Homo sapiens: one gene and its partner. The gene in region 2 interacts genetically with the main gene of each other region. Each region holds a gene or a part of one and is shown on either strand. Other genes may lie near its edges.

The links.
Region 1: changes in POLN (region 2) and CDC27 together harm fitness more than expected from each alone (negative genetic interaction), as found in Homo sapiens cells (one large-scale study listed by BioGRID).

What each region holds. Positions count from the first base shown.
Region 1 is NC_000017.11:47,137,170-47,140,987, reverse strand, and holds part of CDC27 (cell division cycle protein 27 homolog), read left to right. Parts: intron 1-2,096; coding exon 2,097-2,249; intron 2,250-3,627; coding exon 3,628-3,818. UniProt on the Homo sapiens protein: Component of the anaphase promoting complex/cyclosome (APC/C), a cell cycle-regulated E3 ubiquitin ligase that controls progression through mitosis and the G1 phase of the cell cycle.
Region 2 is NC_000004.12:2,169,111-2,172,928, forward strand, and holds part of POLN (DNA polymerase nu), read right to left. Parts: intron 2,072-3,818; coding exon 1,988-2,071; intron 1,665-1,987; coding exon 1,569-1,664; intron 1-1,568. UniProt on the Homo sapiens protein: DNA polymerase with very low fidelity that catalyzes considerable misincorporation by inserting dTTP opposite a G template, and dGTP opposite a T template. Is the least accurate of the DNA polymerase A family (i.e. POLG, POLN and POLQ).

The DNA of each region.
Region 1 (3,818 bases), on a different chromosome or scaffold from region 2:
GAAGCATGGTGAGGAAACTGGGAGACAATGAAGTATGGTGTTTTTGTTTTTATGTACTCAGAGGGAAGGTTACTCTTCCCTTCATGATCCATGCAAAGATCTAGGGGAAAGGTGTTCTTTCCCACAGGGAATACATACAGAGGATACCTATTCATATAATTTAATTTTGAATAGTACAGAACAGAGAGTTGAAGACAGAAAGTCTTATTCATTGCTACAAAACCCATGTTTCGATTATGGTCCTTTACTGGTATGTAGCATATACACAGACAGGCAAGAGCTGTGTTCGGAAAAGCCATTTAAAAAATTATTTCTAATTTATTGTTTCACAGCTACTTTAACATAAATGAATTTTATTGTTTCCCCTAGTTATAGTGGTGACCCAAATATTTAATTAAAGAAAGCCTCTGTTTCAACTTAATTTCTGAGTTTTTTTCCCATTTTTCTTTTTGTCTATGCCATAATCATTTTTCAGAGGAAGCAACAGATTCTGAAAACTTTGAAACCAAAAGGTACCTACCTATATTTGGCTGGTAGGTCTTTTATCTTGTTACCATGCCTGAATGAAAAACTTGGCCAGGTGTGGTGGCTCATGCCTATAATACCAGCACTTTGGGAGGCCAAGGAAGGGGGATCACTTGAGCTCAGGAGTTGGAGACCAACCTGGCCAATGTGGTGAGACCCTGTCTCTACAAAAAAATGAAAAAATTAGCTGGGTGTGGTGGCACTCACCTGTGGTCCCAGCTACTTGGGAGGCTGAAGTGGAAGGATCACTTGAGCCCTGCAGGTCAAGGCTGCACACTTACCTTTATAACTTTTAAGAGATTGCAAGGAAGTTACAAATCGTTAAGCTATTCCTATATATCATATGACCACTTCTTGGAATTAAGCACTCAGTTTTAAAATGCTCTTATTTTCTGTCATACTCATTTCATTAAGAATAGTCCAGATATTCCTTATTATAAACTAAACTGTGAAAATTTCTTTTCCTTTCTTTTTTTTTTTATTACCTAGACCTTTTCTGGCAGCTGAGAATTTTGAACTTGGTAAATTGATAAACTAGGAAACTGATTTTATATAACCTAAATCCTCAAACTTTAGAGGGAGAGAAACACAGTTCTGGGAGCTGTGAATGTGATGAGGAAAAAAATTGATGAGGCAGCTGAGGAGAGACCCTGAAGTCAAGAGAGTGCTGCAAAGGAAAGGATAATTAATAGGTAGGGCCTATGATTCCTAGCAGACACAATATTGGTGTGTATATTCAGGGCTCAATAGGATTTATAACCATAGGATTGATAGCCAGCTTAACCTGTTTCTTCCCTCTAAATTTTCTGGCACAACCTCTCGGTAAAAATTGTTCAAAAATAGATTTTATGTTACAGAAATCATTCTTCCATCATCTTTCCTAAAAGAGTTATTCTGGCCAGGTGTGGTGGCTCATGCCTGTAATCCCAGCACTTTGGGAGGCCGAGGCGGGTGGATCACAAGGTCAGGAGATCGAGACCATCCTGGCTAACATGGTGAAACCCTGTCTCTACTAAAAAATACAAAAAATTAGCCAGGTGTGGTGGCAGGCGCCTGTAGTCCCAGCTGCTTGGGAGGCTGAGGCAGGAGAAGGGCGTGAACTCGGGAGGCGGAGCTTGCAGTGAGCCGAGATTGCGCCACTGCACTCCAGCCTGGGCGACAGAGTGAGACTCCATCTCAAAAAAAAAAAAAAAAAAGAGTTATTCTGTAATGCCATTATTAAAACTTGGAAATGAGGTTTTTGAGAAGGAAATATTGACTTTTCTTTTGAATTGTAGCTTTGTATAGATTTCTCTTCGGTCTTTTTGGTAGAAACTCAAATTTCCTTTTCAGAGTTCATGTTCTTACCATGGCTTGTATATAAATACTAGGTTGACTGTCAATATGGTTACATCACTATTTGACCTGCCATAGTAGATTGCTGAATTTGTCCTTGTGTTAATACTCATTCACATAAAAACCATAATACAAGGCAGCATTTAGATCCTGTGAAGATAATGACCAGGGCTTTCCCTGTGTATATATATAAATTGTATCAACTTGTTTTCTCTTACTAGTTTTTTTTATTTCAGGCTGAAAGAATATTCTCAGAGGTTAGAAGGATTGAGAATTATAGAGTTGAAGGCATGGAGATCTACTCTACAACACTTTGGCATCTTCAAAAAGATGTTGCTCTTTCAGTTCTGTCAAAAGACTTAACAGACATGGATAAAAATTCGCCAGAGGTATGTTAACCAAAATACTTTGCTTATATAGTTACCTTTTTGATCACCCTCAACAGATAGAGATGAACCAAGCAATTCAAACACTATTTAGTGTCACCCACGCTTATTTCTTTTTTTTCCTCTCTCTCTAGTCAGGGACTCAGAGAGGAAGAGAAAGTCCTAGAATGTGTGGTGCAGATTCACAAATAGAAAAATCACAAAGCAGCTATTTCATTCAGGATTTATCGAGATTTGACTACGTTAAATTTGCTGTTGTCACCAAGATTAGGGTTCGTTGAGCAGAAGTTACATAGATTGAAAAAATTAATAATTTTAAATTAAAATAAATTAGTATTGTCATTGTAAGACATAGGTGCAATTAATGTACATGCTCTAATCTTGTAAGATTGTATTTCATTGCATCTCAAAAATATTTAATGATACTTTTGTAACATATCTAAGCTTAGAATTAAACACAGTCAACTCCCATTATTTGCGGTAATTCTGTAGTCAACATGAACACTGAATTAGTGCTACTGAACCAATGTTCCTGGGAGTGATGGAGAGTTTGAAACAGAGATAGATTGTGGATTATAATCTTGAATCCTAAAAATAACTCATCCTGGTAGATCCTATTTTCTTTACAAAAGAGAGAATGCTGCTGGGTGTGGTGGCTCACACCTATAATCCCAGCACTTCGGGAGGCTGAGGCAGGCGGATTCCTTGAGCTCAGGAGTTCCAAGACCAGCCTCGGCAACATGGCAAAACCCTTCTCCACAAAAAATACAAAAATTAGCCAGGTATGGTGGCTGGCATCTGTGGTCCCAGCTGCTCGGGAGGCTGAGACAGGAGGATCACTTGAGCCTAGGTGGCGGAGGTTGCATTGAGCCAAGATCACACCACTGCCCTCCAGCCCGGACAACAGAACAAGACCAGATCTCAAAAAAAAAAAAAGAGAGAGAATGAGGTTCAGAGGTGACTTGCCTGAAGCCATCCTACTTAAAAGTGCCAGCAGTGGGATTCAAATTCTGTCCAACTGTCCCCAGAGCCAAAGCTTCTTGCACTACACTAAACTAGCCCACAGAGTTTCTGTCCCTGGTCATCTCTGCATGAGAGCTAAAACAAGAAGGTAGAGTCACATTATTCAACCTCAAATGAGAACATACCTTTTGATGACTATGAAAGCACTGCAAGTATTGATTTTGGTTTTACAAATAAATTTTAGCAATCAGACAAATTCACAAATATGGAATCTGTGAATAATTAGAATTGAGTATCTACTGAAGCTCCTCCATTTTTGTCTTTCTGTTCTAAGTTGAGGCTTGATTTTAGTCATAGATTTGGTTTTAGAAAAAGTAAAATTTTAATTCTGTTTGGTTTTTGTTCCCATTTTTTTAAGGCCTGGTGTGCTGCAGGGAACTGTTTCAGTCTGCAACGGGAACATGATATTGCAATTAAATTCTTCCAGAGAGCTATCCAAGTTGATCCAAATTACGCTTATGCCTATACTCTATTAGGGCATGAGTTTGTCTTAACTGAAGAATTGGACAAAGCATTAGCTTGTTTTCGAAATGCTATCAGAGTCAATCC
Region 2 (3,818 bases):
GCGCACAGAGCTGCAGGCAGCTCAGCAGGCGCTGGAGTGGGGGGAGAGAGGAGGTGCCGGGCCAGGAAGGCACAGCCAGAGCACGGGCCTGGGGATACGCTCTGCAGCTCAGATTTGATGCTAAGTGCAATAGAAGCTACTGGAAGTCCTAGGGCAGTAACGTGACTTTTCCAATGCTTTTAAAGGATCACTCTAGGTGTGAAGGATGAGCAGCAGGGGCAAGAATGGTTGGAGGGATCTAAGTGAGAAAGGTCTATGGTAGAGACGGGGGAATGGGGAAAAGGAGGCATGCTCAGGACCTATTTTGTGGGTAGAGACCTTGACACTCACTGTGAGAGGAGGCGGAAGGAAAGTCAAGGACGACTCACAGGACTTTTCTCAGAATGGCCGATGCTTACTGGTCTTTTGAGAGCTTTTACGTCTGGCACGGTCCTAAGTGCTGTTTCACACAGACACATGGACACACACACACGCACACACACTGAAGCCTTACAAGATTCCAGTAGGGAAAGTACTATTATTATTTTTCTTTTATAGATCAGGAAACTGAGGCACAGAGCAGTCGAGCAATGTTTTCATGTTGTCCAAACCATGCTGGCCAGTGATGGCTGACCCCACTGCCCTTGTTCTTACTTACTACTCTGTACTGGCTCCCAAGGACCTGGAAGGAGGACGGGCCCTTCACTAAGGTGGAGAAAGCTTGAAGAAGAAGAGGATTTGGAAGAGGGCAGTTTCAAGTCCCTCCAGTGGAGCATCCTCTGTGGGAGTCCATTATTCACCCAGTAACTGTCCATTAAACCAGCAAAGGCCAAGTGCAGGCACAGTCAACGAGCTCAGGCTCCTTGAGGGCCTGTACTCTAAGACACCCTCACAGGGCGGAGACTGGAGGAACGTGGTGCTGGAGAGGGAATAGGGCCAGAGGAGACATCTTAGAAGGAAACCTTCCTCTGTTACAAAGTCGAATGCTGGACAGAGCACAGAAAGCACAAACTGGAGCCTCAGAAGCTGGTTCTCACCACAGTAACCAATATTCACAATAACATGAATTCACTTATTTACTGACTTCCACTCTGTGTCTTTTCAGTAAAAGCACTCACTGTCTTCTGAATATCGATCTATACTCTCCCACTCCAACACAGCACAATCTCACTACTCCTTGTCTTCAAAAAAAATTGATTCCTCTCAAGAGAGGGGTAGGTAAAATTCTCTAAAATAAATCTGAGGAAAGGAGAAGACTGATGACCCGTTTCTAGTTCCTCTTGGGGACACGAAGCAAAGAGGTTGTGACTGGATTGTCAAGAAATTGGTTTTAAGAACAAAACTCCACCAAATTATGCTTTTCAGGAAGTCAAGCCAATTAACTGCTTCTGCAAAAGTGTACTGTCTGCCTCTCTCCCTTGGTCCATAGCGAGAAAAGCAACCTTGGTGTGGGGAGCCCCTCTTCTGCAGAAACTGCTGCCAGCATGAGGGGACGGCCTGAGAGTCTCGGGTGGGTCTGAAGGTCAGCACACATGTGGTGCAGACATGCTGTCATTCTAAAAAGAAAAAGGATAACTCTGAAACCTTACCACTGCTTCTGATGTAGACGGGTATTTCTGCAACCCCGTTCTGGGGAGACTGTTCCTTTGACTCAGCAGGTGCAGCTTTAACTTGCCAAAGAGGATCTTCAACAAAACAAATTAAACATGGTGAGGGAATCTCACATTTGAGAGAAACAGAACATTACTATAGCAGAGCCCATGCCAACAGCCAGAGAAGACACACCCAAACAGACATTACAACATGCTTAAATTCTCATTTAGTACTTTTCTACAAGTTAAAGGCTTTGAAGTAATGAATCTCAATGTGTTCATTACTTGTGAGAGAACATGAAAAACTTACTTTTCAGATAGTTGACATAAAATAATACTTATAAATTCAAAATAAATCTCCCTTTAACTCCTGAATAAGAAATACATTTTATGAAAGAACCAAAATTCAGCTTTACCTCTCGAAGCTGGTTATTGCTCGTTATAAGAAACCGTTCTCCTGCAACAAAATGAGCTTCTTGCTCCAATTCCTTGAGACGAGCCTGAAAATATGATACACACAATTAATTTCATTCATAGTTTTCACAATTTAAGATTGTTTAATTTGTTCATCAAACAATTCTCAACAGCGAGATGGGCACGGTGGCTTATGCCTGTGATACCAGCCCTTTGGGAGGCTGAGGCAGGAGGATCACTTGAGACCAGGAGTTTGAGACCAGCCTGGGCAACATAGTGCGACCCCACCACTAAAAAAAAAAAAAAAAAAAAAAAATTAGCCAGGCATGGTGGTACACACCTGTGGTCCTAGCTGCTTGGGAGGCTGAGGTGGGAGGATTGTATGAACCCGAGGGTTCAAGGTTGCAGTGAGTTATAACTGTGCCATTGCACTGCAGCCTGTGTGACAGTGAGACACTGTCTCAACAAACAAACACATACACACAAAATTCCCAAAGAAAGCTCTTAAAAGAGTAATAAATAACCTATAATTTATCAAAATAAGCATAAAAATACACACTTTGGCCAGGCACGGTGGTTCACACCGGTGATCCCAGCACTTTGGGAGGCCGAGGCAGGTGGGTGTCTTGAGCCCAGGAGTTTGAGCCCAGCCTGGGCAACATAGTGAGACCTCATCTCTACAAAAAAATAAAAATAAAAATAAACATATTTTGCCTCATGGTGAAATACCTAGGCTCATAGAAGCATCCTCCCCCAAAGGTAAGAAAACAAACTTAAAGTAGTAAAAATAATGGGAAAGAAAGAATCAATTCTCCAACAATATTAAGACTAGAAAAGGGATCCAACATCACATAGAACAAGACAGAGGTAGAAAGTATAGGAAACAGGCTTGTATCCAGAATACATCAGGATATCCTATACATCAGTAAGAAAAAATATAAAAATGGGCAAAAGACTTGAGCAGATCCTTTACAAAAAGAAATTCCTAAAAGCTAATGATGCTATGAAAAGCTAATCGATCCCACTAATGTGAAATGTGACATACAAAAATGATATCACTCTGGTCCAGAGCTCTAAAGTAGAGTCAGGGAGCCATTCTAAGGACTGCCTGCATGACCTGAAATGCTGAAAAACAAAAACAAAAACAAAAAACAGGAACTTGAATTGAACCTCTGAACTGGGCTCAACTGCAATGACCACAACATCCTGGAAAACAGCTAGATTTTGCCAGTGCTGCACCTTCTGAAGAGCGACAACCAATGAGCTCAACGGACTCATGTACTAAGCCAACCGCCTCCAACAATGATAATTCTTTCACAACAACTGTGTATTCGCCCTTAGCTTCCTTTTAAAAATCTCAACTCCCCTTCCTCTCTTCAGAACACTTATTGGCCTTTAGCTGAACCTGTGTCTCCTGAATTGCAGTTTCTAAGACCCCAGGAATGCCTTGTCTAACTGCTTTGCAGTCTGCTCTTTCACCTCTTCTTGGTTGACATTAGTAATCAGGAAAATAGAAACAAAACTCATAATGAGATATCATTATAGCCTCACCAAAATGGCTACAATGTAAAAGTCTGATGCACCCAGGGGAAGTGAGGATGTGCAAGAATGGGATCCCGTATGCATTCTCATGGGTGAGACTCTGGGAAGCCATTGGGCATTATTGAATAAAACTAAGCAACAGCTTCCCTGTGTCCCAGCAGCACTAGTCACCTCACAGCCCACAGAAACCTGTGCCCACAGGCACAGGGAATGCACTCAGAGGTACAGCGTGGTTTGTAACGACTGCCACTTGGAAACAACCACACGCCTATCGGCAGTGGGACAGAGACA